Linked DNA regions of Homo sapiens: regions 1, 2, 3, 4, 6 and 7 are each reported to be linked to region 5. The links are microRNA targets in miRTarBase. Many come from high-throughput screens and were not tested one by one. Region 5 holds a microRNA gene; each other region holds the end of a gene's coding sequence.

What was found. Region 5 holds the annotated microRNA hsa-miR-6819-5p (UUGGGGUGGAGGGCCAAGGAGC, at 3,169-3,190, shown strand). A microRNA usually pairs through its seed, bases 2 to 8, with sites in the 3' UTR of a target mRNA and lowers its output. Matches are read on the target gene's strand: a 7mer-m8 pairs with bases 2 to 8, a 7mer-A1 pairs with bases 2 to 7 and ends in A, and an 8mer does both.
Region 1: the mRNA of MUC17 is a reported target of hsa-miR-6819-5p. Seed matches in the 3' UTR shown: 7mer-m8 at 803-809.
Region 2: miRTarBase lists ASB6 as a target of hsa-miR-6819-5p. Seed matches in the 3' UTR shown: 7mer-m8 at 3,759-3,765, 7mer-m8 at 2,615-2,621, 7mer-m8 at 2,255-2,261 and 7mer-A1 at 1,355-1,361.
Region 3: the mRNA of GDE1 is a reported target of hsa-miR-6819-5p. Seed matches in the 3' UTR shown: 7mer-A1 at 2,039-2,045.
Region 4: the mRNA of MID1IP1 is a reported target of hsa-miR-6819-5p. Seed matches in the 3' UTR shown: 7mer-m8 at 1,390-1,396 and 7mer-m8 at 1,427-1,433.
Region 6: the mRNA of PTMS is a reported target of hsa-miR-6819-5p. The part of its 3' UTR that is shown has no 7-base or 8-base seed match.
Region 7: miRTarBase lists NAA50 as a target of hsa-miR-6819-5p. Seed matches in the 3' UTR shown: 8mer at 3,896-3,903.

What each region holds. Positions count from the first base shown.
Region 1 is chr7:101,057,529-101,061,924 of GRCh38, forward strand. MUC17 (mucin 17, cell surface associated) reads left to right here. Exons shown (of 13, transcript NM_001040105.2): 13 at 475-1,331. The coding sequence ends at 516. It also overlaps the pseudogene RN7SKP54. Among named protein-coding and RNA genes, the nearest start is that of TRIM56, 26 kb to the right of the region's middle.
Region 2 is chr9:129,633,690-129,638,125 of GRCh38, forward strand. It overlaps ASB6 (ankyrin repeat and SOCS box containing 6), which reads right to left. Exons shown (of 6, transcript NM_017873.4): 6 at 916-4,436. The coding sequence ends at 4,101. NTMT1 (N-terminal Xaa-Pro-Lys N-methyltransferase 1) reads left to right here. Exons shown (of 4, transcript NM_014064.4): 3 at 365-617; 4 at 1,519-2,446. The coding sequence ends at 1,775. Among named protein-coding and RNA genes, the nearest start is that of ASB6, 6.2 kb to the right of the region's middle.
Region 3 is chr16:19,499,709-19,504,144 of GRCh38, reverse strand. It overlaps GDE1 (glycerophosphodiester phosphodiesterase 1), which reads left to right. Exons shown (of 6, transcript NM_016641.4): 6 at 528-2,452. The coding sequence ends at 675. Among named protein-coding and RNA genes, the nearest start is that of TMC5-AS1, 14 kb to the right of the region's middle.
Region 4 is chrX:38,804,777-38,809,212 of GRCh38, forward strand. It overlaps MID1IP1 (MID1 interacting protein 1), which reads left to right. Exons shown (of 3, transcript NM_021242.6): 3 at 1-1,756. The coding sequence starts at 171. The coding sequence ends at 722. Among named protein-coding and RNA genes, the nearest start is that of MID1IP1-AS1, 3.1 kb to the left of the region's middle.
Region 5 is chr22:36,285,635-36,290,070 of GRCh38, reverse strand. It overlaps MIR6819 (microRNA 6819), which reads left to right and starts at 3,164; the gene lies at 3,164-3,224. MYH9 (myosin heavy chain 9) reads left to right here. Exons shown (of 41, transcript NM_002473.6): 32 at 774-986; 33 at 1,132-1,344; 34 at 1,658-1,819; 35 at 3,225-3,353; 36 at 4,118-4,206; 37 at 4,290-4,413. RefSeq lists an enhancer at 3,163-3,675.
Region 6 is chr12:6,769,495-6,773,902 of GRCh38, reverse strand. It overlaps PTMS (parathymosin), which reads right to left. Exons shown (of 5, transcript NM_002824.6): 2 at 4,229-4,300; 3 at 3,904-3,982; 4 at 3,685-3,746; 5 at 2,951-3,511. The coding sequence ends at 3,461. LAG3 (lymphocyte activating 3) reads right to left here and starts at 1,383. Exons shown (of 8, transcript NM_002286.6): 1 at 993-1,383; 2 at 564-711; 3 at 1-206. The coding sequence starts at 1,050. RefSeq lists a silencer at 1-123.
Region 7 is chr3:113,717,787-113,722,222 of GRCh38, forward strand. It overlaps NAA50 (N-alpha-acetyltransferase 50, NatE catalytic subunit), which reads right to left. Exons shown (of 5, transcript NM_025146.4): 5 at 1-4,151. The coding sequence ends at 3,974. Among named protein-coding and RNA genes, the nearest start is that of USF3, 23 kb to the left of the region's middle.

The DNA of each region.
Region 1 (4,396 bases), not on the chromosome of region 5:
AGTCAGGAGTTTAGGACCAGCCTGGGCAACAAAGTGAGACTCTGTTGCTATAAAAGAAATAATAATCATAGCCAGGTACAGTGGCTCACACCTGTAATCCCGGCACTTGGGGAGGTCGAAGTGGATGGATTGCTTGAGCCCAGGAGTTTGAGATCACCCTGGGCAACATAGTGAAACCTCATCTCTACAAAAAATTTAAAAATTATTCAGGTGTGGTTGTGTGCACATGTAGTCCTAGCTACTTGGGAGGCTGAGGTGGGAGGATTGCTTGAGGCCAGAAGTTACAGGCCATGGTGAGCCGTGATTGTGCCACTGCACTCCAGCCTGGATGGCAGAGTAAGACCCTGTCTCAAAAAAATAATAAAAAATAAAAATAATTAAACAGAACACTTCCTATCCCAATCCTCCTTATGCTTCCAGAATCCCAAATTCCTCATGGGCTGAGCCCTCACTTGGTTTTATCTCTCTTTTCAGATCCGAATTCAGAGGCCTCAGGTAATGACGACATCATTTTAAGGCATGGAGCTGAGAAGTCTGGGAGTGAGGAGATCCCAGTCCGGCTAAGCTTGGTGGAGCATTTTCCCATTGAGAGCCTTCCATGGGAACTCAATGTTCCCATTGTAAGTACAGGAAACAAGCCCTGTACTTACCAAGGAGAAAGAGGAGAGACAGCAGTGCTGGGAGATTCTCAAATAGAAACCCGTGGACGCTCCAATGGGCTTGTCATGATATCAGGCTAGGCTTTCCTGCTCATTTTTCAAAGACGCTCCAGATTTGAGGGTACTCTGACTGCAACATCTTTCACCCCATTGATCGCCAGGATTGATTTGGTTGATCTGGCTGAGCAGGCGGGTGTCCCCGTCCTCCCTCACTGCCCCATATGTGTCCCTCCTAAAGCTGCATGCTCAGTTGAAGAGGACGAGAGGACGACCTTCTCTGATAGAGGAGGACCACGCTTCAGTCAAAGGCATACAAGTATCTATCTGGACTTCCCTGCTAGCACTTCCAAACAAGCTCAGAGATGTTCCTCCCCTCATCTGCCCGGGTTCAGTACCATGGACAGCGCCCTCGACCCGCTGTTTACAACCATGACCCCTTGGACACTGGACTGCATGCACTTTACATATCACAAAATGCTCTCATAAGAATTATTGCATACCATCTTCATGAAAAACACCTGTATTTAAATATAGAGCATTTACCTTTTGGTATATAAGATTGTGGGTATTTTTTAAGTTCTTATTGTTATGAGTTCTGATTTTTTCCTTAGTAAATATTATAATATATATTTGTAGTAACTAAAAATAATAAAGCAATTTTATTACAATTTTCATGGTTCCCAGATCTTTCCTCCTGTTTCCCATAGCTCCTGTTTCTAACCTCCCAGACTCTCTCTCTCTCCTCCAGAACATAAAATCGGATGCTTTTGGGGTTCAAGACAACAAGAGAGAGATTTGCAGTGGAAAGAGGACCATTCCTTGAACTCCACTGACACCATTTGCTGGTGTCCAAGAGGCAAGGCAGACAGACAGACAGACACACACACACATATACACATACACACAGAGGGGGGGGGGGGAGAGAGAGAGAGAGAGAGAGAGAGAGAGAGAGAGAGAGAGAGACTCACTTCCTACCAAAGAAAACCAAATTTTGCAAGCTCTCCTTCTGAAAACGGGCTTTTATTTCTTTCCATACATCTAAAGAGATAGAGACCTGGGTTCTATTTCAAGCTTTCTCGTGAATTCCTTGGGTTAAATCTGGGAAAAATCTATTTGGACTCAGTCTTGCCTTCTGCCGAATAAGGACTAGGTTATTTCTAAAGCCTCTTTCATCGCTGTCCTTCTTAATATTCCTAGGACGCTTTTTAATAATTATTGTTATTCCAGCCATGCCGCTCAGGATTCATTGTATTCTTGAAAGTCTGTCCCACCCGCCACCCGCTTCAAAGCCTAACCTGAGACAGAACCTGGACTCTGCTTCCCCCTACTGGACACTCTGAGCACCTGCAGGCACCATGCCGTTTCTCAGCGGTCCCCTTCTGGCCTCTCCTGTGACAAAAATATTCCGTTACACTTGATCATTTCCATATTTGCCATCAAAATTCTGTTTCTTTTCTTTTCCTTTTTTTGAAACAAAGTCTCACTCTTTCGCAAAGGCCAAAGCACAGTGGTGTGATCACTGCTCACTGCAACCTTGAGCTCCTGGGCTCAAGAATTCCTCCAGCCTCAGCCTCCCAAGTAACTGAGACCACAGATGCCGGCCACCACGCCCGGCTAATTTTTAATTTTTTCGTAGAGACGGGGTTTCGCTGTATTGTCCAGGCTGGTCTTGAATTCCTAGGCTCAAACGATCCAACCACTTCTGTCTCCCAAAATGCTGGGATTCCAGGCATGAGCCACTATGCCCGGCCTTTTTTTTTTTTTTTAATTTTGAAAATTTGCAAATCTACAGGGAAGTTAAAACAATAAAGTTAAAAAAGTGAACCCTACCTGGGCGTGGTGGCTCACGCCTGTAATCCCAGCACTTTGGGAGGCCGAGGCAGGCGGATCACCTGAGGTCAGGAGTTCAAGACCAGCCTGGCCAACATGGTAAAACCCTGACTCTATTAAAAATACAAAAACTAGCCGGGAATGGTGGCGCATGCCTGTAATCCCACTTACTTAGGAGGCTGAGGCAGGAGAATGGCTTGAACCTGGGAGGCGGAGGTTGCAGTGAGCGGAGATCGTACCACTGCATTCCAGCCTGGGTGACAGAGAGAGTCTGTCTTAAAAAAAAAAAAAAATTACACATATATATGTATATATAACAGTGAACCCCATATAACCTTCACCTGGAGTTATCAGTTGTTAACGTTGTGTCCTATTTGCTCTAAAGTGGTATGTATTTTTTCGAATTAAGCAAAATTGGAAATTAAAAATTAGAAAAGTTACAAATAAAAAATTACCACGAACCTGACCTTTTTTTTTTTAATTTTAGACTCAAGGGGTACATGTGCAGGTTTGTTTCAAAGGTATATTGTGTGGTGCTGAGGCTTAGAGTATGAATAAATCTGTCACACAGGTAGTGAGCATAGTACCCAATAGGTAGTTTTTCTCTTTTTTTCTTTTCTTCTTTTTTTTTTTTTTTTTTTGAGACCGAGACTCGCGGTCACCCAGGCTGGAGCGCAGTGGCACAATCTCAGCTCACTGCAACCTCTGCCTCCCGGGTTCAAGTGGTTCTCCTGCCTCAGCCTCCCGAGTAGCTGGGATTACAGGCGTGCACCACCTTGCCTGGTTAATTTTTATATTTTTAGTAGAGACGGAGTTTTGCCATGTTAGCCAGGCTGGTCTGGAATGCCTGACCTCAAGTGATCTGCCTGCCTTGGCGTCCCAAAATGCTGAGATTACAGGCATGAGCCACCACACCCGGCCCCAATAGGTATTTTTCCGACCCTTGACCCCCTCCCTCCTTCTCTGATTTTGGGGTCCCCAGTGTCAGCTGTTCCCATATTTGCGTCCATGTACACTCAATGTTTAGCACTCACTTATAAGCAAGAACATGCGGTATTTGGTTCTCTGTCTTTGTGTTAATTCATTTAGGATAATGGCCTCTAGTTGCATCCACGTTGCTGCAAAGGACGATTTCATTGTTTTATTTATGGCTGCATAGTATTCCATGGTGTACATGTACCACATTTTCTTTACCCAATCCACCATTGATGGGCACCTAGGTTGATTCCATGTCTTTGTTACTGTGAATAGTGCTGCAATAAACGTACAGGTGCAGGTGTGTTGGGGGTAGAATAGTTTATTTTTCCTTGGAGTACATACCCAGTAATGAACAATCCTCAGTTCCCAAAACTGAGCTGAATTCATACATCTTCACTTTCAGACCTGCCTCCTGCCTCCCATAGGCATCTGTGGCCATGGGAGCGGGGACTTAACAGGGCTACAGACCCCACATCCCATCTGGAACTGAAATCTCAGCACCTTCCCACTCTCTCATCCTATCTGTGAAACGGAGAGGCAGGACAGAGCACCCAGACCCATAGGCTGCCCAGGTCCACTCTTGGTGAGCCATTTACTACCTGCGTGAGCTTGGGAAAGTAACTTCTTCTCTCTGAACCTCTGCTCCCTCAGCTGTAAAAACAAAAAACAAAAAACAAACAAACAAAAAAAACACAACAACAACAACAAAACTGAGTAGCTGGGCGTGGTGACTCACATCTGTAATCTCAGCACTTTGGGAGGCTGAGGCCGGTGGATCACCTGAGGTCAGGAGTTTGAGACCAGCCTGGCCAACATGGTGAATTCCCGTCTCTACTAAAAATAGGAAAATTAGCCAGGTGTGGTGGCACACACCTGTAACCCCAGCTACTTGGGAGGCTGAGGCAGAAGAATCACTTGAACCTGGGAGG
Region 2 (4,436 bases), not on the chromosome of region 5:
GTGGCGCATGCCTGTAGTCCCAGCTACTTGGGAGGCTGAGGTGGGAAGATGGAGGATGGCTTGAGCCCAGGAGTTCGAGGCTACAGTGAGCCATGATCCCACCACTGCATTCCAACCTGAACAGAATGCAGAATGCAACCTGAACTTTCAAAGATAAAGGAATGTGTGGCCCAGCAGTGTGTCCTCCCATGCTCATCCCCTCGACTCCGTACAAGCTGGCAGCCAGCACAGACCTCCCCACCAGTGCTCAGCTTGTGCGGAGTCCTGGAATCCTGACTTGAGTCTAAGTCCTAGGGCTCGTGAGGAAGGGCCGCACGTGCGGTGACAGGGTCCCTCTGATAGGTTATATGCCTCTGCTTTTCAGGAAGGCCCGAACAAGACAGGAACGTCCTGTGCCCTGGACTGTGGAGCTGGCATTGGGAGGATCACCAAGCGGCTGCTCCTGCCGCTGTTCAGAGAGGTGGATATGGTCGACATAACGGAGGACTTCCTGGTTCAAGCCAAGACCTACCTGGGGGAGGAGGGCAAGAGGGTGAGGAACTACTTCTGTTGTGGGCTCCAGGACTTCACCCCGGAGCCGGACTCTTACGACGTGATCTGGATCCAGTGGGTGATAGGTGAGGGTTCCACCGCCCTTCCCTGCTCACCTGTATGTCTCCTGCCACTCGCGTTCCCCATAAGGTGTCAGGACCAGGGCTTTGCACTCCTGCAGCAAGTGGGCCAGTGAGGATTCCCCACCCCGCCCAGGCCCACCCCCACCCCGTACTTCCCAGGACTGAGGGACAGGCTCGGCCTAAAAGGTAGATTTCTTCCTTCTAGGTTTTGTTTCAGTTGAATACCTGCTACCATCCATTTGGGTGCAGTTTTTTGTTGAAAAAATTTTAATGGCCAATAACTTACTGCATTCAAAGTGAGGAGTTTTATAAGGGTTTTATTTTTAATAAGATGAATAGTTTAAGCTTCGTGTCTAGCCCTGCACCCTCTTAGCCTAACAGCACACCTCGAGCGCTGTGCCCTGGGCTGCTGACGTGGCGGCAGGCCGCTAGCAGCAGTCGGCCACCTCCTGAGGCGGGCAGCACAGGCCTGCTGTGGACACTCTAGGTCTGGCCTTGTATTTTGTGGTCTCAGAAGCCTTTGTGGGGACTTCTAGTGTAGGGAAGGCAGTCTCTCTGGGAGCTCCTGCAATGCCAAACTCTTAGCCCAGGTTCACTCCTCCGATCCAAGCCTGGCAGGGGTGGGGCATCATGGTGTGTAGGTATCAGGCAGGACTTGTAAGCCATCCCGTCAAGTCAAATTCTGGCTTAATGTGTCTTTAGGTAGATGACCTCTGAGCCACAGTTTCCTATTCTATGAATTGGGGTTTAGTAAATCTCTCGGGACTGAGAGCCAATGAGGCCATGTGTGCACACAAAATGCTGGGCACAAATGAGGGGCTCAGCGGGGCTGAGAAGTACATCCCATCCAGTGCCGACATCCGCTTGCATGGTGCCCTGGTAACCTTGCCTCTGCCCTCCCCAGGCCACCTCACCGATCAGCACCTGGCCGAGTTCCTGCGGCGCTGCAAGGGCAGCCTCCGCCCCAACGGCATCATCGTCATCAAAGACAACATGGCCCAGGAGGGCGTGATTCTGGACGACGTGGACAGCAGCGTGTGCCGGGACCTTGACGTGGTCCGCAGGATCATCTGCAGTGCAGGCCTCAGCCTCCTGGCCGAGGAGAGGCAGGAGAACCTCCCCGATGAGATCTACCATGTCTATAGCTTTGCCCTGAGATGAGCCGGGGCTGGCAGGAGAAACTGAGGAACCACAGTCCTGGTGGGGGGAGCTGGCAGCTGGGCAAGATCCAGGCGCCACGCTGGCGGTTCGTGAGTGTCGAGGCACCACTAAATATAGCTGTCTGCCGTCCACTCATTATGCGGGCTCTTCTTCAAAAGGCAAGGTGGGACCCGGCGGGGAGGGTGCTGCTGAACCAGCGGTGAGGCAGGAGCCCAGACCCTGCTCTCCTGCGAGATGGGATTGGGTGGAAGGGGCTCCAGGGCTCCTGGTGCTCCCCATGTGGGAATAGGGTGGCCACATCAGTAACCGATTCCCTGGGCCTCCAGCCCGGCCTTCCAGCCATGGGCCTGGCTGCCTGAAGAGGAAGGAAACCACCCCCAACTTGGTTGCTGGGGACTTGAAGACTTCAGTGTGATCTTTACCTAGGGGAGGGACAGAGCTGGGCTGGTGGAGCCCATGGGTGCTGCCTGATGGTGCTGTGGGGTGGGTGCTCATGTGCCAAGTCCTGCTTGGCAGTGGAGACCTGGGGCCCTTAAAGTGTTACAACAGCCTGCAGCAAGGGAAGTTCCCCGTAGCCTCAGTCTTCTCTGGGCTTGAGGCTGCTCCTTGGCAGGCATTTAAAGTAAAAAATAAAATGGGGCTGGGCGCGGTGGCTCACGCCTGTAATCCCAGCACTTTGGGAGGCCGAGGCGGGCAGATCACGAGGTCAGGAGATTGAGACCATCCTGGCTAACAGGTGAAACCCCGTCTCTACTTAAAATACAAAAAAAAAAAAAATTAGCCAGGCGTGATGGCGGGCGCCTGTAGTCCCAGCTACTCAGGAGGCTGAGGCAGGAGAATGGGGTGAGCCCGGGAGGCAGAGCTTGCAGTGAGGTGAGATTGCGCCACTGCACTCCAGCCTAGGTGACAGAGCGAGACTCTGTCTCAAAATAAAACTAAAATAAAATGGGGGCCGGGCACAGTGGCTCATGTCTGTAATCCCAGCACTTTGAAAGGCCGAGGCAGGCGAATCACCTGAGGTCAGGAGTTTGAGACCAGCCTGACCAACATGGCGAAACCCCGTCTCTACTAAAAATACAAAAATCAGCCAGGCATGGTGGTGGGCACCTATAATGCCAGCTACTCAGGAGGCTGAGGCAGGAGAACTGCTTGAACCTGGGAGGCAGAGGTCGCAGTGAGCCGAGATTGCACCATTGCACTCCAGCCTGGGTGACAGAGTGTCTCGAAAAAAAAAAATAATAAAATGGGACCTCCACACTGTGGAGGCCCTTGCCAGTCTAGAGTGGTGCTTCTTTGCAGGGACTTGGAAACAACCCCCCAAACACAGCATCCCCTCACACCTGCCACCCACTTCCTTACCGGCTGCTGTGGGAGCCTCTATCCTGAACTATGGAGGGGCGGGGTGGAAATTTTATATAAGGACCTTGTTAAGGCCAAGAAAGTCAGTTTAATCTTATAATATAAATATATCATTTAGTCACCTCAGCTTATCCCCAGAGGTGTTTACACAATTCCCAATGACCAGTGCAGCTTGGAAGGGACTGAGGCTCGCAAGTGGGTGGCACAGTCGGCTCTTCAGTGGCTCCAAAGTGAGCCCCTCACAACAGGAGACACTTCAGAGAGGTCTGTCCCCAGCCACGCACTCATGATTGCTTTTTAGCAGAAGTCATGGTCGCTGAGGCCCTGGGTTTGGCAAAAGCACAGCTGCCAGCAGAGCACAGTTCTGGTAGGTGGGGCCACGGCTGACCTGGCCCCAGAGCTACAGGAACAGGCAGGGGCCAGCTTGGCTTGCAACACCATGAAACAAGCCTGTGGGGCCCTTAGTGTCTTCTCCCGCAGAGCCCACCAGAAACACTTCTGTGAGTAACAGAACCTGGAAGGAAAAGGGGCAGGGGTGGGGCCTTGGTGGCACCGCACAGGACGTGCCCCAGGCTTCCTCTCCAGCTGCACTGCCACGTGCGGCCAACAAGAGCCCCGCAGCCCTGGGGTGCTGAGGCTTGGTCCTTCCCAGCTTCTGCAAATGCCCTGGCACTGCCCTCCAATTCAGAGGGTATAAACATCAATCCAAGCCCTGTTCCTCTTTCCAACATGGGGGGGACTTGGAGTGCCGCTGGAGGGAAGGGGGCAGTCTCTCTGGAAGAACCAGAGCTGCACCCTTCACCACTGGAGTGATCACAGCTTCAGGCTCTACCTGGCTGGCTTTTCTCATGAAGGATCCCGTCTCATCTCCCAGATCAAAAAGACCCTCTTCTAATGCTGTCCCAGCATCTACCAACAGGCTGACCTGAGCTGCCCGTGTCCCCCGTTCCTGTAGCCTGAGACCTATCAGATGTCATCTTCCACGGAGCCACTGTGCTCGCTAAGGAGGTACCACTTCAGCCTGTCGGGCAGAGGCAGGGCTTTGACCTTCACATCCACAGGCCACGGCTGAAGGTAGAGCCGGATGGCCACACGGCACAGGTGCTTGAGGGGCGGGGGATAGCTCTCCAGCTGCCTCAAGGAGAAGTGGAGGGCCTGGATCTTTTCCGCCAGGCTGCCCACAGGGTGGATATCGAAGTTTTCGGGCAGCTGGAGTTTCTGAGAGTTGGTCACCATGAGATCCAGGACAGTCTCAGCTTTGCGCAGGAGGTCCGCATGGCTCTCGTCTTCCGTGCAGCCTGG
Region 3 (4,436 bases), not on the chromosome of region 5:
TAATCTGGTCTGGGTTGTCAGAAACAGCATCCCCAAGGAAGTGACAGTTAAGCTAAGATCTGAAGGGTGAGTGGGAATTGGGAGGAATCCAGATCAGAGAGAAAAATACATGTAATGTGCTCTGGCAGGAAGGAACATGGTTCTTTCCAGGAAGTGAAAGAAAATTAATATTCTTTCAATTAATTTAAAATTAATCAGCACAGAAAAGAAAGGGGGAATGTGGTGTGAGATGAAGCCAAGGAGACAGGTCGGGGCCAGGTCAGGCACACCTTCAGTGGCTGTGCCAAGGACATTTGGGGGTGGCGATCATTAGTGAGCTACTGAAATGTTTTAAGCTGGGACAGTGTAGAGGAGGTTCATGGCATCCTGGGTTTTGGAACAGTCCCTCTGATCACAGTGCAGAGGCCAGTTAGGAGGCATTCTCTGGGCACCATTGGTATGCAGTGAACACCATACTTAGTGGCCATTATGGATTCCTGAGACAGCTGCTTATTATTCTAACAGGATTGGCTTTCCTCTTTCCCCAGGGCCTACTTGAAGAAGTGGTCAGCTAAAGGAATCCAGGTTGTTGGTTGGACTGTTAATACCTTTGATGAAAAGAGTTACTACGAATCCCATCTTGGTTCCAGCTATATCACTGACAGCATGGTAGAAGACTGCGAACCTCACTTCTAGACTTTCACGGTGGGACGAAACGGGTTCAGAAACTGCCAGGGGCCTCATACAGGGATATCAAAATACCCTTTGTGCTAGCCCAGGCCCTGGGGAATCAGGTGACTCACACAAATGCAATAGTTGGTCACTGCATTTTTACCTGAACCAAAGCTAAACCCGGTGTTGCCACCATGCACCATGGCATGCCAGAGTTCAACACTGTTGCTCTTGAAAATCTGGGTCTGAAAAAACGCACAAGAGCCCCTGCCCTGCCCTAGCTGAGGCACACAGGGAGACCCAGTGAGGATAAGCACAGATTGAATTGTACAGTTTGCAGATGCAGATGTAAATGCATGGGACATGCATGATAACTCAGAGTTGACATTTTAAAACTTGCCACACTTATTTCAAATATTTGTACTCAGCTATGTTAACATGTACTGTAGACATCAAACTTGTGGCCATACTAATAAAATTATTAAAAGGAGCACTAAAGGAAAACTGTGTGCCAAGCATCATATCCTAAGGCATACGGAATTTGGGGAAGCCACCATGCAATCCAGTGAGGCTTCAGTGTACAGCAACCAAAATGGTAGGGAGGTCTTGAAGCCAATGAGGGATTTATAGCATCTTGAATAGAGAGCTGCAAACCACCAGGGGGCAGAGTTGCATTTTTCCAGGCTTTTTAGGAAGCTCTGCAACAGATGTGATCTGATCATAGGCAATTAGAACTGGAAGAAACTTCCAAAAATATCTAGGTTTGTCCTCATTTTACAAATGAGGAAACTAAACTCTGTGGAAGGGAAGGGGTTGCCTCAAAAGTCACAGCTTAGCTGGGCACAGTGGCTCATGCCGATAATCCCAGCAATTCAGAAAGCTGAGGCAGGAGGATTACTTGAGGCCAGACTGGGCAATATAGCAAGACCCCATCTCTAAAAAATTAGGCATGGTGGTGCATGCCTGTATTCCCAGCTACTCAGGAGGTTGAGGTGGGAGGATCACTTGAGCCCAGAAGTTCAAGGCTGCAATGAGCCATGATTACACCACGGCACTACAACCTTGGTGGCACAGTGAGAACCTGACTCTTAAAAAAAAAAAAAAAAAAAAAAAAAAAAAGATAACTAGAACTTCTAGAACATCTTGTTTACAGTTAGCCAGAAACTATACAAGTGGTTTAACATGCATTATCTTACTCAATCCATACAAAAGTCTTATGGAGGTGTTAGCACTCTTTCTACTGATGAAGAACTGAGGTACTTCATAAAACCACTTACCCAAGGTGTCTTGAGTCTGGTACAACTGGCATTCAAATCTAGGTCAGTCTGCCCCCAGAGCCACTACCCTTACCCCTCACTGAATCTGCCTTTATATTGTTGAGCCCATGACCCCAAACTGCTCTTTCCAATTTGAACTTCCAGGGATTTTATTGTGAACTTACATAGCAACATTAAAATGAAGTTGAATTGTTTTTAATGGCAACGCCGTCTGTCTCCTCTAGCTTACCGCTTCTCACCTTTCAACCCCATCTGTGGCCTTTGTCCAGGCCCACAGCTTAGCCATGGCTTCCCTCCTGCATCCCTGCCGTGGGTTGCTGGCCTCACACTTGCAGCAGCTGGACAGTGATTTTAGAAGGCCACCAGTCCCCATAGCTATGTGACAATGAGAAGCAAACTTTTTTGTGACAGATTGTATTGGCATAGGCATGATAGATGGGGATTGGTACGTTTTGAATCAGCATTTGCAAAAAAATTGTCTTGAATTTTAAAATAAACAACAAAGATTTGTTCATTGAGTGCAACAAATGTCTAAACTGCATGTACTTCCGTGCCATGTTATGACTAGAGTGAAAGGAGGAGGAAAAAGTGACCAAAGAAGATACATCAGGCCAGGCGTGATGGCTCATACCTGTAATCCCAGCACTTTGGGAGCTGAGGTGGGTGGATCACTTGAGGCCAGGAGTTTGAGACCAGCCTGGCCATGATGGGGAAACCCCATCTCTACTAAAAATACAAACATTAGTTGGGCATGGTGGCACATGCCTGTAATCCCAGCTATTCAGGAGGCTGAAGCAAGGAGAATTGCTTGAACCCAGGAGTCAGAGGTTGCAGTGAGCCAAGATTGTACCACTGCACTCCAGCCTAGGCCAGAGAGCAAGACTCTGTCTCAAAAAAAAAAAAAAAAAAAAAAAAAAGATACCTCTGTTCAACACTAGCTGTTCAACAGGCTGTTCAACACTAGCCTGGGCAACATAGTGAGACCCCATCTCTACAAAAAATTTACAAATAGGGGCTGAGATGGGAGGATCACTGGAGCCTAGCAGGTTGAGGCTGCAGTGAGCTAGGATCGTGCCACTGCACTACAGCCTAGGGGACAGAGTTTGACTCCAATCTTTAAAAATTTCATAATAATAATAATATCCCTTTGTGTTGTGGGAAGATCTCTGGAGAGCCATGAGATCTCTGTCTCTTGATCTTTATCCCAAATCCATTTTACCTTTGATTCAGCCAGGCCAAATTAAGGATTTAGGTCCTATGCTAAGATGGTCAGGGCCTCAAAAGGTGGAGAATTTGAATGATGAAATAAGGTATTAATAACTACTATTAAGCACTTCCTTGGAAGGCTTAGTATAGGGTTAATAACAGGATTTGGAATCAGAGAAAGCCAAGTCTGCCTTCCTATTCAGCAACTTACCAGCTATATGACCTTGGGTAAGTTACTGAATTTATCTGTAAAATAGGGGTAGTATTCTTGCGGTGGTAGTGATTAAATGAAAGAGTGCATGTAAAATCCTTGCTAATTAACATTTATTGACTGCCTACCATGTCCTAGACTGTTTAAAATGCTTTCCATGTACAGTAGTTTCTTTATTTTTTGAGACAGTCTCACTCTGTCACCCAGGCTGAAGCGCAGTGGTGCGATTTCAGCTCACTGCAACCTCTGCCTCCTGGGTCCAAGCAATTCTCCTGCCTCAGCCTCCTGAGTAGCTGGGATTACAGGCGCTTGCCACCACGCCCGGCTAATTTTTGTATTTTTAGTAGAGATAAGGTCTTACCATGTTGGCTGGGCTGGTCTCGAACTCCTGACCTCAGGTGATCCGCCCACCTCAGCCTCCCAAAGTGCGGGGATTACAGGCATGAGCCACTATCCACTGCATGTACACCTCCAGGAGAAGCAGGGCTGCACTGAAGTGGAGACAAGGGATGGAGGTGAAGGGAGAAGCATTCTAGATGGAAGCACTTAGCATCTGGTGAATGAGCAGAAGTGATGCTTTCAGAGAGAGTTCAGATTTCATTGTAGAAGCCCAAGCAGCAGCCGGGCATGGTGGCTCACGCCTGTAATCCCAACACTTTGGGAGGCTGAAGCGAGCGGATCATCTGAGGTCAGGAGTTCAACACCAGCCCAGCCAACATGGTGAAACCCCGTCTCTACTAAAAATACAAAAATTAGCCGGACCTGGTGGCACGCTCCCGTAATCGCAGCTACTCGGGAGGCTGAGGCAGGAGAATCACTTGAACCCAGGAGGGGGAGGTTGCAGTGAGCTGAGATTGTACCACTGCACTCCAGCCTGGGAGACAGAGGGAGGCTCCAACTCCATCTCAAAAAAAAGCAAAGAAAAAAGCACAAACAGCACTAAGATGACCCCAAGGGGAATAAAATCACTTCCAACATCACTTCCATGGGTTGCCTGCACTGACCCCACAGACAAGTCTCCCTTAGTCCCTGTGCTTCTTCAGAGCATCTACTACAACTGTAATTAATTATTGCTTAAGAATTAAATTCAT
Region 4 (4,436 bases), not on the chromosome of region 5:
GCGAGACGAGAGTTGGCGAGGGCGGAGGAGTGCCGGGAATCCCGCCACACCGGCTATAGCCAGGCCCCCAGCGCGGGCCTTGGAGAGCGCGTGAAGGCGGGCATCCCCTTGACCCGGCCGACCATCCCCGTGCCCCTGCGTCCCTGCGCTCCAACGTCCGCGCGGCCACCATGATGCAAATCTGCGACACCTACAACCAGAAGCACTCGCTCTTTAACGCCATGAATCGCTTCATTGGCGCCGTGAACAACATGGACCAGACGGTGATGGTGCCCAGCTTGCTGCGCGACGTGCCCCTGGCTGACCCCGGGTTAGACAACGATGTTGGCGTGGAGGTAGGCGGCAGTGGCGGCTGCCTGGAGGAGCGCACGCCCCCAGTCCCCGACTCGGGAAGCGCCAATGGCAGCTTTTTCGCGCCCTCTCGGGACATGTACAGCCACTACGTGCTTCTCAAGTCCATCCGCAACGACATCGAGTGGGGGGTCCTGCACCAGCCGCCTCCACCGGCTGGGAGCGAGGAGGGCAGTGCCTGGAAGTCCAAGGACATCCTGGTGGACCTGGGCCACTTGGAGGGTGCGGACGCCGGCGAAGAAGACCTGGAACAGCAGTTCCACTACCACCTGCGCGGGCTGCACACTGTGCTCTCGAAACTCACGCGCAAAGCCAACATCCTCACTAACAGATACAAGCAGGAGATCGGCTTCGGCAATTGGGGCCACTGAGGCGTGGCGCCCGTGGCTGCCCAGCACCTTCTTCGACCCATCTCACCCTCTCTCATTCCTCAAAGCTTTTTTTTTTTTTCCTGGCTGGGGGGCGGGAAGGGCAGACTGCAAACTGGGGGGCTGCGTACGTGCAGGAGGCGCGGTGGGGCTGCGTGGAGGAGGGGGCCACGTGTGAGAGAGAAGAAAATGGTGGCCGGAGATGGGAGGGCCCAAGGAACCTCCTGGGAGGGGGCCTGCATTCTATGTTGGTGGGAATGGGACTGGGCTGACGCCCTGCATTCAGCCTGTGCCTTTCCTGGGGTTTCTTTTCTGTTCTTTTCGGAGGAGAGGGCCCGAGAAGGGGCCATACCAGGGCGCGGCGCTGGGTTGCCACACTTGGGAAAGCAGCCCGGAGCTGGGTGCTGGGGAAGGCGGGGCGCGTAGCCTCCCGCCGCCCTGCGGTTGGGCCGGTGGAGGCCCAGGCGTTGCTAGGATTGCATCAGTTTTCCTGTTTGCACTATTTCTTTTTGTAACATTGGCCCTGTGTGAAGTATTTCGAATCTCCTCCTTGCTCTGAAACTTCAGCGATTCCATTGTGATAAGCGCACAAACAGCACTGTCTGTCGGTAATCGGTACTACTTTATTAATGATTTTCTGTTACACTGTATAGTAGTCCTATGGCACCCCCACCCCATCCCTTTCGTGCCACTCCCGTCCCCACCCCCACCCCAGTGTGTATAAGCTGGCATTTCGCCAGCTTGTACGTAGCTTGCCACTCAGTGAAAATAATAACATTATTATGAGAAAGTGGACTTAACCGAAATGGAACCAACTGACATTCTATCGTGTTGTACATAGAATGATGAAGGGTTCCACTGTTGTTGTATGTCTTAAATTTATTTAAAACTTTTTTTAATCCAGATGTAGACTATATTCTAAAAAATAAAAAAGCAAATGTGTCAACTAAATTGGACAAGCGTCTGGTCCTCATTAATCTGCCAATGAATGGTTTCGTCATTAAATAAAAATCAATTTAATTGATTTACTAGCAAAAGTAAATTTTGTGTTCTCTCTGGTATTTCATGGTGGTGGATATTCATCTGTGCAAGTATTTAGCTTTGTTTGGGAACTAGGTACTGACAAAATTTACTTCCAAACTTTATTTCTAATTCAGTACCAAGATAAGACCATACATCTCAACAAAAAGTTCAGAAATATTTAAAATATTTGGGAAGGTACATATATTGTATCTTTCAACCAATTTGGCTAACTTATTGGAGTGCGTAATTAACATTTTGAATTTTTTAAGAAGCTCAAGCACAAGCTAAAGTGTTTTGAGGCATAAAAACAAGGCTGAAATTTCACTTGGTTACTGAGAAGTGAAAATTAGAAGGGAAGACCAGCTAATCCTAGTGCACACACCTTACAGGTTTTTATGTTTATCTGAGTAGACATTTAAATGCATTACAACATGATCGATGACTTCTTTCACTAGTTCCAAAAAGGGCTAAGCTTTGTTGAGCGGCGTCCAGTAATGCTTCCAGTTTTTCAGTGAGCCAGTCTGCAATTGTGGACAGCAGTTCTGATCAAGGCTGCTGTGGAGCCCTTGGGAATGCTTAGGTGCCATTATGATGCTCTGCTGGGATGGTGGGAAAGGTAAAAGAATGTGCTCTGCATATTCTTTATTTCATTATTTGTTTTGGGGTATAAATGTCAGATCAACTTGTTGAAGTCATGAGGCATTCTCTAAGCTCGTAGGGCTTGAATTTAAAATACATATAAGTTAGCGGTCTTAAAAAACAAGCAAAATGTTTTGTGGTGCTGGCGGGCAGGGGCAGTTCAAGTCTATCAGCTTTTAGCAGCAGTGAAAAAAAATGTGGAAGTGTCAAGATGGGTGCTTGCCAGTTGCCAGAGAAAGTTAATCTTTAATTTGTATAAAGATAAGCTAGGCAGCACCAAAAGTAAGGCATACAGCCTCTTGTCTCGTGTCCCCTTTAAAATATCAAAGTGCAAGCAAAAAATAAAGGAAACTGAAAAAAAGAAAAAAGCTGCATGGTAGAAACACAAAGACTTTCAAAGACTTTGGAGCCAGAAACTGTGCAAATCCTCTTGCTACTAATTGTGTGCATTTAACTTCATGCCTGTTGCCACATTAGTAATCAGGCATAAAAATAACTACACTGCTTCATGGAGTTGCAGTGAGAATTAAATGAGATTATATATAAAGTGTTTGAGGCTTAAAATTTTCTTTAGGCACTGCTGAAATGCTTTACAAGTTTCTCTCTTTTTTGATGTTTACAGTGATTACATTTATCTAAGCAACTTTCATACATGTTCAGTTTTAACATATTGACTACTCTGACAAATATGCTTAAAAAAAGCAATAACATTATAGAGTTAATGCAGAGTCCTAAGGATAGTCTAGTAGCCACTAAGTTTTTTCTTAAGTCTTCACTTTAGATGCTGTTATTTCTAGCACAAGCAAGCAGAGTCTTTCATATGCTTACACCCTGGAGTCTTTGGTTGCTACCATTATCAGCTGGCTTGCAAACCAGAAGCCAACCATTTTAGGAATGCTTTAAGTGAACAACATGCAAACCCCAGGGATGGAAAAAACCCTAAGAATGCCCAATTATGAGCATTTACAACCATCACAACTGTGGCTGAAGACTATGCCCTTCTGAAATGAGATCTTAAAGCAGTATAGTTTGAAACAAAAGGTTTTAGCAAAAAAATGACATATGCACAATTTCTCCACCACTTTGTGTGAGTCAACCATTTAGTTAACTTTTCCACTTGAAAAAATGCAATAGAAAACCGGACACCATGTTTCACTATCTCAGTTAATATTCACAATTACAGTGGCTACAACTCGGAAACGGCATCACCAATGCTGCCCAGAGTCACTTTATATTGAAATTAAGTTCTTTACACCAATTAAATGGTTGTTTACAACCACTGGCTAGTGTACACAGGAAATAAAATTTCTAGATTGGGGGGGGAAACAAATGCTGCTCCAATCATCTCCTCTGCTGCTTCTGTTCCTCAATTCATGCTTAAAAACCTTTCATGTTACTCTTGGTTTTGTCCGTTTGCTTGCCTGTGGGGGTTTGGGCCTGCTGACCTGCACATTTCTCTCTTAAACTAAATGTTGTTTCGTGTCTCCATTTCTGCCCCCACCCTACATTCTTCGTGAATATATGAGGCTTAGGACAATATGTCCATTTTAAGGAAAAGCATAATTTTAATTACATACGTGAAGCAACAAGTAAATTATTTCCTTTCTCAAAGCCATGAAGGAGAACTTGACTTAAAACCAAAAATAAATAAATAAATAAAAATTAAAAAATCACAGTTTGGGCAAGTGATAGCAAGAACTTTGGGGACATTCACTGAAAGTTGTTTTTGGAATATTATTGCAGTATATATAATACAGAAAAGTACATGTAGATAGAAAAACTAAACTCTAAAGAGTTATCAATTATTAACTTTATTTTTGAAAATATTTCTTCATGTAAGAGACTTTTTATATATAAACAGTGATTCTGACCTAGGAGTAATGATGCTCGCTGTTAAAAGAGCATTGGGATATTTATGAACCAATAAGGTTTCCGGGCCCAGTAAGTACTATTCCACTAGTGGTAACTACTATTTTATTCCAGATCAGTTTGTGAAACAAAATTAGGACAAATTCCCAAAAGATTTACCAGTTAAAACTTCGCAAGCTATTGAAA
Region 5 (4,436 bases):
GGGGGATGTGGACTCGGGGGCAGGATAGAACAGTAGAAGACATCGGGCAGCCAACTGTGGTAGCCGGATCCGGCCCCTGCATTTTGTAGGGAACGATAGACTGAACACAGCCACGCTCCATGGTTCTCATGTTGTCTCTGGTTGCTTTGTGCTGTGGTAGTGGGGTTGAGCCATTGCTGCAGAGACTGTAGGGCCTGCATACTCTAAAGAATGCACTATCTGGCCCTTTAGGAAATGGTCAGCAACCCATGGGATAATTAAGGTTTGGGCCAAAAGGAAGGGAAGGTGGGGAAATAGGATAGAGCCAGGTGGGTGCACACAGAGAACAGATGCCAGGGGACAGCAGCTGTCATTAGAGAAGACCACAAATGGGGTTCAGGCTTCTTGGCAGCCAGCTTGGCATTCACTTCGTGAAAAGTGCCAACCAAATGCCAGCTGTGGTTCAGGAGAACCAAAGCTCTTACAGGTTTGGAGGGCTCTCATGGAAGGGGCAGCGTGCCATAAAGGGTTGCGATTAGTAAGTGATGAAAATTAAACAGACGTTACAACATGGTGTTCGCAGTAGTGCCTGCTCCAGTCGGCAGTCATCCCATCATGAGGATGCACGGGACTGTGTGTATTGTCCTGGGCACAGCCCTGGGCCTGTGCTTCCTAGGCCTGCTCCTCTCCACCGTGGCCTCTGGGCTCCTCCTTCCCCAGGGAGCTTAGGCCCAGCTGCCCTGCCCTGCTGGGGGCCGTAGCTCTGAGCCTCATGGTGCCCACCTCTTTCCCAGCTCCTGGCGGAGGAGAAGACCATCTCTGCCAAGTATGCAGAGGAGCGCGACCGGGCTGAGGCGGAGGCCCGAGAGAAGGAGACCAAGGCTCTGTCGCTGGCCCGGGCCCTGGAGGAAGCCATGGAGCAGAAGGCGGAGCTGGAGCGGCTCAACAAGCAGTTCCGCACGGAGATGGAGGACCTTATGAGCTCCAAGGATGATGTGGGCAAGAGTGTGAGTCCTGGGCCTGGCAGCCAGGTCTTGGGAAGGGCCCGAGTGGGGTCATCACAGAGGGTCGGTGTGTGCACAGACTCCGGGTCGCGCAGACCCAGGTACCTGCCAGTCCCTTTGCTCCTGACTTGGGCTCTCTGGGGCTCAGGTCCACGAGCTGGAGAAGTCCAAGCGGGCCCTAGAGCAGCAGGTGGAGGAGATGAAGACGCAGCTGGAAGAGCTGGAGGACGAGCTGCAGGCCACCGAAGATGCCAAGCTGCGGTTGGAGGTCAACCTGCAGGCCATGAAGGCCCAGTTCGAGCGGGACCTGCAGGGCCGGGACGAGCAGAGCGAGGAGAAGAAGAAGCAGCTGGTCAGACAGGTGTGCATGGCCTCCTGCTACCCCATGGGTGCCCAAGGCTGCCTTGGCTTCACGCAGGCTTCTGTTCTCTCCTTCCACCTGGATTGTGTTAGGGCCCCTTGACCACGCCTCCCCTCCCATATTCCTTCTTTCTAGCCTCCTGTCTCGGGGTTCAGTGACTCACTTTCTTAGAGTTCTTATGGTCAGTAATCCCCACTGGTTTCCCGAGGCCCCATGGATCCTGCAGAACTGGCCTGAGGCTCCTGAGTTCAGAGCTAGGGCAGGGTCTCCCAGTGGGTCCAGCTTCCCAAGTTGTTGATGTTCCTTCCCCCAGGTGCGGGAGATGGAGGCAGAGCTGGAGGACGAGAGGAAGCAGCGCTCGATGGCAGTGGCCGCCCGGAAGAAGCTGGAGATGGACCTGAAGGACCTGGAGGCGCACATCGACTCGGCCAACAAGAACCGGGACGAAGCCATCAAACAGCTGCGGAAGCTGCAGGTAAGGGTGGGCGGGGCCCAGGTGAGGGTGGGCGGCACCCGACTGAGCCAACTACATATGAAGGTGCCAGGGCTCGGCCCAGGGCGGGAACCTGGCAGGGTGGCACCTCCTGGGAAGGTCCTGGGTGCTTCCAGCCCCATCTCACTGACAGAGACTCAGAGGCTCAGAGGTGAGTGGAAACATGATAGTCCAACAGCAAACTTGCAAAACGGTGTATGACTGGGTACATAAAACACAGAAGCAAACAAGTACAAGCCTAGACATGGGTGGAGTTCAAGAAGGTCTCACTTAATGCAGACTTCCAGAATCACCCGGGTCCTGACACCCTTCAGCCTTCTGGGCTCTGGGGCGATGGTTCCAAGAAGCAGCCCGGAGTGTGGGACACATACTTGGAAATCTTCACCTCACTAATAATTAAAGAATAATTAACACGTAAAAACAGCTCTGATACGCCATATCATGTAACAAGAATAACCTTAGTTTAACAAATTTTTTTTTGTTTGTTTGTTTGAGACGGAGTCTCGCTCTGTCGCTCAGGCTGGAGTGCAGTGGCATGATCTCGGCTTGCTGCAAGCTCCGCCTCCCGGGTTCACGCCATTCTCCTGCCTCAGCCTCCCCAGCAGCTGGGACTACAGGCGCACGCCGCCACGCCCGGCTAATTTTTGTATTTTTAGTAGAGACGGGGTTTCACCATGTTAGCCAGGATGGTCTCAATCTCCTGACCTTGTGATCCACCCGCCTCGGCCTCCCAAAGTGCTGGGATTACAAGCATGAGCCACTGCGCCCGGCCAAAAAAAAAATGTTAAGTGTAAAAAAAAAACCCACAAAAACTTTAAAACTTCATTGTGGTCAAGGTTGTGGGCATAGATGCTCTGATTGCTGGTGGCATTTTTTTACTGGTGTGGTCGGGCTGCACACAGCCAGTCACTCTCTTTGATTTGGGGAATCTCAATTTCGGATTTATCTGCAAAAGGAAAAAAAGGCTATTTGACAAAGGTCTTTAGTGTTAAAAGAAGTAACAGGAGAATAACAAAAGGAAAGGTGTTTCCTGCCTGTGGTGGGGATGGACCGGCAGGCTGGGCACTGGTTTTGAGTGGCAGGTGCGCATTAGGGGTGGCACCATGGGCACTGGCTTCCGGCCCACAGGAGGGGACAGAAAGTAGAAAATGAAGCTCAGCTTGGGCTCACGTCCACGGTGACGAACACTGTCAAAGTGTGCATTACGGGGTGGGATACACAGATGATTGTCTTTAGTTGCCTTTTTGCCCTGTCACCACGGTTAGTTGGTTAAATACAGCATTGAGTGGAGCACCAGCCATGAGCCCTGTTGGCGAGGTGACCCATGAGGGTTGGGGTGGAGGGCCAAGGAGCTGGGTGGGGTGCCAAGCCTCTGTCCCCACCCCAGGCCCAGATGAAGGACTGCATGCGCGAGCTGGATGACACCCGCGCCTCTCGTGAGGAGATCCTGGCCCAGGCCAAAGAGAACGAGAAGAAGCTGAAGAGCATGGAGGCCGAGATGATCCAGTTGCAGGAGGTGGGTGGGGCTGCAATGGAGAGCGGCACCGCTGCCCTGCGGCCAGCAGGTGGCAGCGTGGGGCTTTCAGCTGAGGACAGGGCTGGAGTCCTACTGGGCTCCAGGAATTGGCTGGGGATGGCTCTCAGGTTACATAAGGATTCCCTCCAGGGTTCCGTTTCATAGCGGGGCTCCCTCGTATGATCAGAGTGTGTGTGTGTGTGAAACTGGCATCCCTCACATGAGATGAGGCTTTGTGGCCACCACCACCTCCTGCTGTGAATGCTGCCTGGTGAGAAGGGGTCTGAGCGTCCCCTCGGCCGCCCTGCCCGTCGCACCTGAGCCCGTCCTGAAGTGTTTCCCAGGTCTGGAGGGTGCCCTGCAGCGTGATGTGCCGGCTGCGAGTGCGTCCAGGGTGTAGCCATCTGCCTGTGGCCTCCAGAGCTGACTCCAAGCTCTGGCTTACCCAGAACAGGGAGGGGCCGCCCTGAGTGACTCTGTCCACGTGGTCTCCCTGGTTAGGCCAGGACACTTCTTACTTATCGCCATACCCTGGCACCTGGCTTGATTCCTAGCACTTAAATGTAAGAGTTTTATAAACATATGGTGTTTAAGCTATATCTTCAGGGGGGCACCAGCCCTGTGAGCTAGAGGGTTTCTGGAGGAAGGGCTTCGTGGGGAGGTGGGCCTGGGGAAGGGCTTGAGGGGAGGGTGCCTGGGGCTGGGAAGGATGGTCTTGTGGGGCTGTGGCTGCCTTTAGGTCACACTCTGGGTCTTTGTGGCAGGAACTGGCAGCCGCGGAGCGTGCCAAGCGCCAGGCCCAGCAGGAGCGGGATGAGCTGGCTGACGAGATCGCCAACAGCAGCGGCAAAGGGTGAGCTGAGTGAGGGGGCAGAGTTGGGGGGGACCAGGTGTGTCCCCAGGGTAGGCCCCTCACTTCTCCCGCCCACCCCGCAGAGCCCTGGCGTTAGAGGAGAAGCGGCGTCTGGAGGCCCGCATCGCCCAGCTGGAGGAGGAGCTGGAGGAGGAGCAGGGCAACACGGAGCTGATCAACGACCGGCTGAAGAAGGCCAACCTGCAGGTGGGTGCCAGGACTTCTCCCAC
Region 6 (4,408 bases), not on the chromosome of region 5:
GGCGCAGCCATAGCGAGAAGTCCCCGCGCTGCCGGCCGCGCTCATCCAGCTGGACGCGGGGCTGCAGGGGCAGCCTCCCGCTGCGCAGGCCTCCGGGACCCACGCTCAGCACCGTGTAGCGGCGGGGCCTGGGCCCCCAGGAGGAGGGCGCCGCCGGGTGAGGGCCGGGGGCCAGGGGATGGCCGGGGGCGGCAGCGGGCGGGCCACTGGGCGGGAAAGAGAATGGAGTTGAGAAGCTCCAGGGGTAGGAAGCCCGGGAGGATGCAGGCAGCCACCCGTTGAGGATGAGAAAGCCCGCCCCAAGAGTTCTCTTGACCACCAACCGTCCCCTCACGCCCGACCCCTCTGTTGGACTGGCCGCATCCACTTCTGGAGAGAAGGGATGCTGGCGTGAGGGTCGCTGATTGCAGAGCAAGGGCAGGAACGGTGCAAGCGAGGGCAGGGAGACTGGGTCACTGGCTTCAGAGGGAGTGACACCTCAGGGCAGGGGACAGAGGACCGGCACGGGTGTGGGGTTGAGTGCTGGATTCGGAGGTCCTGTTGCCCAAGTTTGGGGTGCATACCTGTCTGGCTGATGCTGCCAAGTGACCCCTGCTCTTCGCAGAAGGCTGAGATCCTGGAGGGGGATTGTGGGGCTGCAGGGGAGCTGGGCAGGAGCCCCCTCCTGGGCCCACACCACCGGGACCTCAGCCCCTGGCTGGAGAGGCTTCACTAGGTGAGCAAAAGAGAGGCCAAGGGGAGGGGGCGTGAGCCGAGAGGCAGGGGTAGAGAAGGAGCCTGGGTGTTTCCCGAGGGAGAAACAGGGTGCAGGAAGAACTTGGGTTTCTGTTTCTTCTCTGCCCAGAGAGGCTTTCGGGGTGGAAGGACTGCCCAAAAAAGGGATTAGAAGAATCCACAGAGCTAAGGACCTCAGGACCTTTGTGGCCACAGAGATCCCTGCTGGTCCCCTCCTGTGGGGCTGGAGGTCAACCCTCCCGCCATCCCCGTTTTACCTGGAGCCACCCAAAGCGGCTGCAGAAACAGCAAGCCCAGGAACTGAGCCTCCCACATCTCTCCTATGGTCTGGGCAGCGCTGAGCCCTCCAAAAGGAGGTCAGAAAAGGAAAGGGGGCAGTGGTGGGGGGTGGGGGGTAAAGGAGAAGTTCTGCAGAGAGGGAGGTGGAGGAAGGGGTTCTAGAAGAAGGGAGACCAGGAGAGGGCCTTGGAGAGAGGGTGGGGAGGGATGACCAGAGGCCGGAATCCAGAGGAAAGCTGGAAAGCTGGGCAGATCAGGCAGCCTGAGGAGGTGGGGGCGGGGGTGTCCCAGGGAACAGAGCAGGGCCGTGGCGGAGAGCAGACAGAGCAAAGTGGCCGTCGTGGCTGGGATGCCGTTCTGCTGGTCTCTGGGCCTTCACCCCTGTGCCCGGCCTTCCCTCCACCTTCCCCACTTCCCCTCCTCCCGGCCCGCCCCCCGCACCCCAGGGCTTACGGTTTCGCTTCGCAGTGGAAAGTCTGAGGGGGTTGATTCCCAGCAGCAGCACCCTCCACCTCTCCACCTCTGTGGTGGCGCTCCCCTTGTTTACTTCCTCAGTCCTGGGTCTCCCCACCTCCCCCTCCTCGCCCCTGCCCCACCCTCCAGACTGCTCCCTCTCCCAGGGACCTTCTGCCTCCACGAACCATTTCTGCCTGGAACTGCCCCCTTGCCCATCTCTAAGCTGCCTCCTCAGTCCCAATATTCACACCTCCTTCTTGGCAAGCTCTTTCCTTGTTGCTCAATCTCCTTCCTCGTTCCCTTAACCTCCCAGAACTTCGTGACCCCTTTAGACCTGCCTTTCCACCCATCAGTACAATGTCCCTGGGAACATGGTGGACAGGAAGCCTTACTGCACCCCAAAAAATGGTAGGTCTGAGGCTAGGCATGCCAGCTTTGTGGGGCATGGAGAATAACTACATTGTATTGAGGCTTCATTACGTGCTAAGCACTGTATTGGACACTTTACTTATAGTAATTCATGAAATCTAATGCTTTTCCCCATTGTACAGATGAGGAAACTGAGCTTCAAAGAAATTGTACAATTTGCCAAGGTTAGGGAGCGTGAAGATAAAAGCTGTGAGTGTACCTGTGTGCGTGACAGTGTGTAGTCCTGACCTTGGATGAGTTACGGGCGTCTCCTGGGAGAAATGATGCTGTTGATGAGTCAACACCCCTCCCCACTCCAACTCAGGTCCCCATGCCCTCAGAAGCATCCTCCAGTCCAGAGGTTCCGAACTAAGAGGAGAAGGCAAGGGCCATGCGGAGATGGAGAAATGCAGAAATCTTAGAAATCTCCTAACAGAGATCAAACTCAGGGGAAACAGAGGCAGTGGGACTAGGGAAGGCCCAAGACTGACAAGAGTCATACAACTCCCGCTCCCCAGCCCAGCCCAGGGAGAGTTGGAGGGCAGGTGACGAAACATACAGCCGACCTGGGGATGACACGAGACCCAGGATTTCCCTGCTTGACTGGAAGGAGCTCGCTTCCATGCCAGGCAGAGGGCATCTCTGATGCCAGGCAGCTCACTCCAGATCCTAGCAGGCTGAGACCCAGGACTACCAGCCCTCTCCCAGCTCAGGGGAAGGACTTCCTGTTTCTGGGCTGTTTCTCTGTGCCTGGTTCAGCACAATAGAGCTGGTAGCTTTCCACTGGGCTCAGCAGTGTCTAGGTCTTGTGTGGGTTAGCAGGGAAGTGTGTATTGCTGGGGAGGAGCATCCCTGAGAATCCAAAACAGGACATAAGTCAGCTCTCAGAAGAGCTGGGCTCCAGGCCACCCCTGGAGGGCTGATCTTGTCTTCTTGAGTCGTGGGTGGTAGGAGTGTGCTGCTGCTTTTGTATCAAAGGGAAGGGTCCTGGCAGAATGGGAGGTCAGCCACCCTCCTCCCTCTCTACCCTTTTGTCGCACTGACTGGAGCCCCCGGGAAAGCAGGAGACAGGTTAAAAACAGAAGCGCGACCATTTCTTTATTAAATTATACAAAAAGGGAGGGGAGGGGGGCAGCTGTGGGGCTCGGCCCCAACCCCGGCCCCACCCCGGCCTGGCGCTGTCTGAGAAGAGGGGATCTGAGGGAGATCCAGGGATCAGGCAGGATAGGGATGGGGCAGGACATGAGGCTGGGGGATGCAGAGGTTAGGTGGGAGAGGCTACCGGAGGAAGAATGAGGCTGGTAGGGGAGGGAGAAAGAGAGCAAAGAGAGAGAGGAGCAATTGGGGGCCAGCTGGAGAGCTCAGATGGAGCAGGTCAGGAGGTGGAACAATGGCAGAGTGAGGGTGGAGGGCGCAGTGTCTGGAGAGGCGGAAATGAGAAGGCTGGGGAGAAAGAAGAGGGTGGCAGCTCTGGTGCAGGGCCCAGAGCAGGGAGCCAGGTGAAGAGTGGCTGGACTTGGCTGCCCCCACCCCCACCTCCAGGCCCAGAGAGGCCTCCCAACCCCAGCCTGTTGGCAGGGGCTCACGCCGATGCCCCATTTTCTGTCTTCTGCCGTTTGGGATCCGCTTCATCCTGTGGAGAGGGAGAGAATGGGGGAGCTGTAAAATGGGAGGGGAGACCTCCCCCTGTCCCGGTCCTGTTCCAGCCCCCACCCCTGCCACACAGGGATCTGGGTCCAAATCCAAAGGGCGCCCAGCCCGGCTGCATCCCTGACAGCCCCTCAGGCCCAGCAACCCAGCCCAAACCTCCTCTTCGGCAGCTCTCTTCAGCGCGGGCCCTTCATCATCCTCTTCTTCTTCTTCCTCATCTGAGGAGCCAGAAATGGGTCATTGGGGAAGGGCAGGAAGCTCTGGCAGAGCCCCCGTGGTCGCCCTCAGCCCTGCTTCAGGTCTTCAAACCCACCCTGACTCTGCTCTCCTTTGAGCCCAGACTTTGCCAGCCCAGCCTCCCCTGCCCCTCCCCACCTTCTTCTTCCCCTTCATCTTCCTCCTCTCCATCCTCGGCAGTTTCTTCTTCTTCCTCCTCAGCCCCGTTCTCCTCCTCCTGTGGGGACCAGGAGAGGGAGTAGCCTCAGGCTGGCTGCATGCCTTGCCCACCATCACCACCAATGGGACTGGAGCCTGGGTGATAAAAGGGCTTGGGATGGGCCACAGGGTGGGGCAGCAAGGGTGACAGGGCTCAGGGGAACGGCAGGACCCAGCACCCTCGGAAGGAAAGCAGAGGAAGGATGAGATGATTGGGAGGGAAGATGGTAGGGCAGATGTGGTCCTCTCCCCCACCCCTCCACACCTCCACCACTTCTTTCTTTCGCTCTTTCCGGCTTGCCTTCTCCTCCACCTTCTCCTTCTTCTCCTTCAGGTCCTGCAAAGGAGAAAGAGGTCACCTTTCTCACCACAAATGGCTTGCAGCCCCTAAGTCCCTGCAGCCCCAGTTCTCCCTCTGTAGTGAGCTTAGAGGTGTGTGAACTGA
Region 7 (4,436 bases), not on the chromosome of region 5:
CGAATAACTGTAAAGTGCAGTGCTTTATAACCCTCATTTAGAAAACTACTCCTTTTAGAGACTAATAAAACACAACCTAACCAAAACTACCCTGACCTTGGGAGTCAACGAAGCCCAGCATCTTCTCTGAGCAGTGATAGCCAGTCTCCTAGAGGGCCCAATGATATCCACCTCCCAGTATTCACATCCTTGTGCAGTCCCCTCCCACACTATACCAAGCTGATTCAATGGTTGGTCTGTGTGACTCATGGAATATGGCAGAAATAATGTCACCTGAGGCTACGTCATAAAAAAGTATGGTTTCTGCTCACTTTCTTATATCACCTGCTCTAGGGGAAGCCACATACCAGTTGTCCACCAGGCAACTGGTGCCCAAGGAACTGAAGCCCAAGAGCCACGTGAGCATCAGGCACTGTGTGTGATACCCACACAGTGAGGAACAGAAGCCCAAGAGCCACGTAAGCAAGACATCTTGGAAATGGCTCCTCTAGCCTTGTCAAGCTTCAAGATGGTACAGTCCTGGCTAACAGCTTGACTGCAACCTTCTGAGATCTCAAGACAGAACCACCCAGTTAAGCAGCTCCTAGATTCCTGATCCAGAACTGTGGAAGGTAATACTTGTTTGTTGTTTTAAACTACAGTAATAACTGAGACACACTAGACAAGGATCACTCATTGCTTCTTAAATGAAAAAAGCAAAAATCTAATTATAACAATTTTGACTAGAAATATTAAATACTGAATTCTGTTAAAGAAAAAATCTTAAATTCATGTTTGATAAAAAGCTTAAAAGCCAATTCCCAACTCATTGAACTACCGTACTCCTTCCTTACAAGGAAGAAAAACAAAACACCTGAATATGTTGTCTGTAGCCAATAAACATTACTAACTAGATTGCAGCCTAAAGTGTCAAGTATTTCTAATAATTACATTAAAAATACAGCAGCAAGACAGTTCCTTGGATCTTACTTTTTCCCTCTCATTGGAACTGAATTGTAGATATTGGGCACTGTACCTAGCAAGTCACAGAAGATCTGAATTAGGATGCCTTAATTACACTTGGCCTATTTTAATGATTTTAAAATTAGATCTTAAATGTGAAAGTAAATAAAAGCAGTAAGGGAAACACTACACAATGAGTATGTACGGTTGCTGGCTGCAGAATTCAACAATACAGTTTTGACATTTACAGATATCACAGATCACTACCAGAACATCACATAAGTTTATTTCAGATGTAACAGCAATGTTAAAATTGACAAGTTTAATTCTTAACTGCACCAAGTAAACTTAGCCATTTAAGTATTTTTTTAAGTTATTCCCTCCAAAAAACTGAGGGAGCTTTTCTTTTCCACCACCACACCATGGTTTCCCAATAGTTCTCTTTTTGGAGGACTTTTCAATTGATGAGTAAACTGCTTTAGATATTTCAGAACTTCATTCCCCAAATGAAAGCTAATCTGGACAAACTATATATTGCATAGATTTCTCTACAGATTCTTTGCTTTAAAACCTAAATGCAACTAACATAGTGTAATTTTAACCTATTTGCCCCACAGTAAAAACTATCTGTCCTGAAAAATATGATGGATATATCCTGTGATTTTCCAGTTAACAGAATTGTTCTACTTCAAAGATAATTATTATCATATATCAAAATAACCAGCTCAACATAGGACATTACTTCAGTCTTTACTGACTCATAGGCATATGAACTTGTGCCCAGCTTTTTACCTCTTCCACATTCTCCTCCTCCTCCATAAGTGGATGGAATTATTTAACTAAGTTTGATGTAGGACAATTAACCCTTTACAAACATTTACAATTCAGGTTAAGTCACTGACTACCGTGGAAAAAGAAACTCTATATATAATGATAGGGAGCCTACACACTCAATTCAAAATTTAATATTTTTTCCTCCTTAAATAACATGTACTTGTCATGAGGCAGCTATTAGGTTTTCAATAACCACATTTAGGGATACATTCATAGGACTGATTAGATAGTCCAGGTGAAATGGTTATAGAAATAGAGGCAGTGTCATCTCAGAAAACCATTTATATATCAAAGTCTATTTTGATATCTGGGAAGTTTACAAAAAGGCTGCTGCATTCTTCAAACTACTTATGCCTTCTGTAACTCAAGCACTCTTCTCTTGCCAAGAGCAAGCTGAAGCTTATTCATGAAGATAAAGGTGCTTAACGCTAAACTTTTCTTCTAAGCTTAGATTTGGATTGTTTAAGAAACGAATACCCCCAAAAAACCAGCAAGGTCTTTCTACATTTTTACCATCTTAAGATTAGAACCCTATAAACTCATTCATCAACTGTCTTCTTTTTCTGTATTATTCTTGGCACTCAAGATTGTTGAAGTCTACTGCACTTTGTACTTTCACATTCTCAAATAAAAACTTAAGGTTATAAAGTGTGCATAAACATTTTATAAAATAATTTTGTCATTTAACATATTTGGAAATGAGACTTTATACCGCAATTTTACATAAGAGGATAAATATGAATGAAACTTCCTTTTAAAGTCAAATGACAGAAAGCTCAAGCCCTGTGCATTATTTTAAAGTCTGAGAACATTTCTAAATAGTGGAGATGGGACTACAAAAGGAAAACATGAATATTTCAGATGTCTCCCATCTTACAAAGTTATCAATCTGTCAAAGCCACTCCGTGTGTGCCGGAAAATGATCTGGCATAAACCAGTCCTCTCAGTGGAGGAGGTCACAGTGACATTTGTATTATTAACATTTTACACTTCTATTTTTCCAAGAATAGAAGCAATATGTTTAATAATTACCCCTGCCTCAAATCCTTAAACTCAATATCACAGGCACTGAGTATAAGCAAATCTGGGATGTCCTCCAACAGATGTGCAATAGCACAGCTATGTTATTCTCAAAAATACTATTTTTTCCTATAAAATCAAATGCTCAGTGGCCACACTTTTAACAGCTGGCATTAGATGACAGTAATTGAATTTTTTGTGTCACAGCCCATCTAAGCTTCCTTTTAGGTATTTTTTAGTATGTCCAAGAGAAAACACCTGCTTCAGGTTTATTTAGGGGTAGTGACCTATAAGGACATCAACTCAATTTTTAAGGTTAGACTATTGTTGGGTTTACTGAAGAAAAAGGAACGGGAAAAAATTAAATCACAACACACCTCTTTAGGTCAGTTAAAGGCCATATCTCTAGCTGGGATATTAAAAAAAATTAATCTCACCAGCCCAAATTCTAAAAGTTAATGCCACTAGTAACAATCAACAGCAGGAAAAACAAACCTGCTAACAACCAGCCCACTCATTAGCAAAAAAGCAGTTTAACTCAAATACTTAGACCAAAGTATAACACTAAACCAAACTGCCCCACCCACCAGCAAGAAGAGAAGATATAATTACTTAAAAATCAACATAAGCTTAGTATTTCTTACAAGGATAACAATGTTCCAACTCCCGAGAGAGTGCTCAGAAGGACTAAAGGTGGAGTGAAGGCAATGTCTAGGGATTAGTATCCCAAAGTGTTTAAAAACCCAAAGTACCACAAACACACTCAACTTGTCTATGAATTAGAGAACAAGATACTGCTGCTGCTTCTTTTTGTCTTTTGAAATATACAATGTTTTGTAGGCTCTGCCCTTCAATGTGAAAGCAGGACATTAAATTTGAAATTATTTGACAATTAAATGTTTAGGACCATCTAACTTCAACTGCAAAACTAAACAGATCTACCTTGTCCTTCCTTCAAACCACCTCACAAAAATAAGAGAAAACAATTCAAACATGATTATTTTTTTAAAGTCCTTGAAAGTATTAAAACTCTCAGAGAAAAGGAAAGGAAGAAAGAAAAACAAGAACAAGGAGGGAGAAAAGCTTTAAAAGAAAAGTGTTGGGGTGGGGGAGGAATCAATGGGCCTCTCTTTTATTTGGCGACAAGCAAGTGCAAGAAAGTTCATTTGTAATTTGTTCAGTTGTCTGTCTTTTGCACATCTGCATTCTGACCAGAAGGAACTTTGAGGTTTTTCTGCAGCACATGAGCATCTGCGGGCTCTATCCTCTTATAGTAGTTCTTCTTTGTCTCAATAATCTCAAAGCCAAACTTCCTGTAGAAGTCAATTGCCGACTCATTGCTGATCTGGACATGCCTGAGATATAAGAGAGTATCAGAAAAAAAATTAAAATTAAGGTTTCATCAAGTTTTAAGCATTCTCCACAGATAGCTCCAAACATCTGTTACATTCTCTTTACAACTACCAGTAATCAACAAGGGTTAGGCATGCTTACCTAAAACCTTTTGATGACAATTTTACACTTTTAATCTAATTTTTACATTTGTAAGACAGCTGGCTGAGATTAGAAGGCTCAGTGTTTATTCTTGTAGTCAACAAAGGGAAAAGTACCACAGCTATCAAAATTTTTTCACTGTAAGA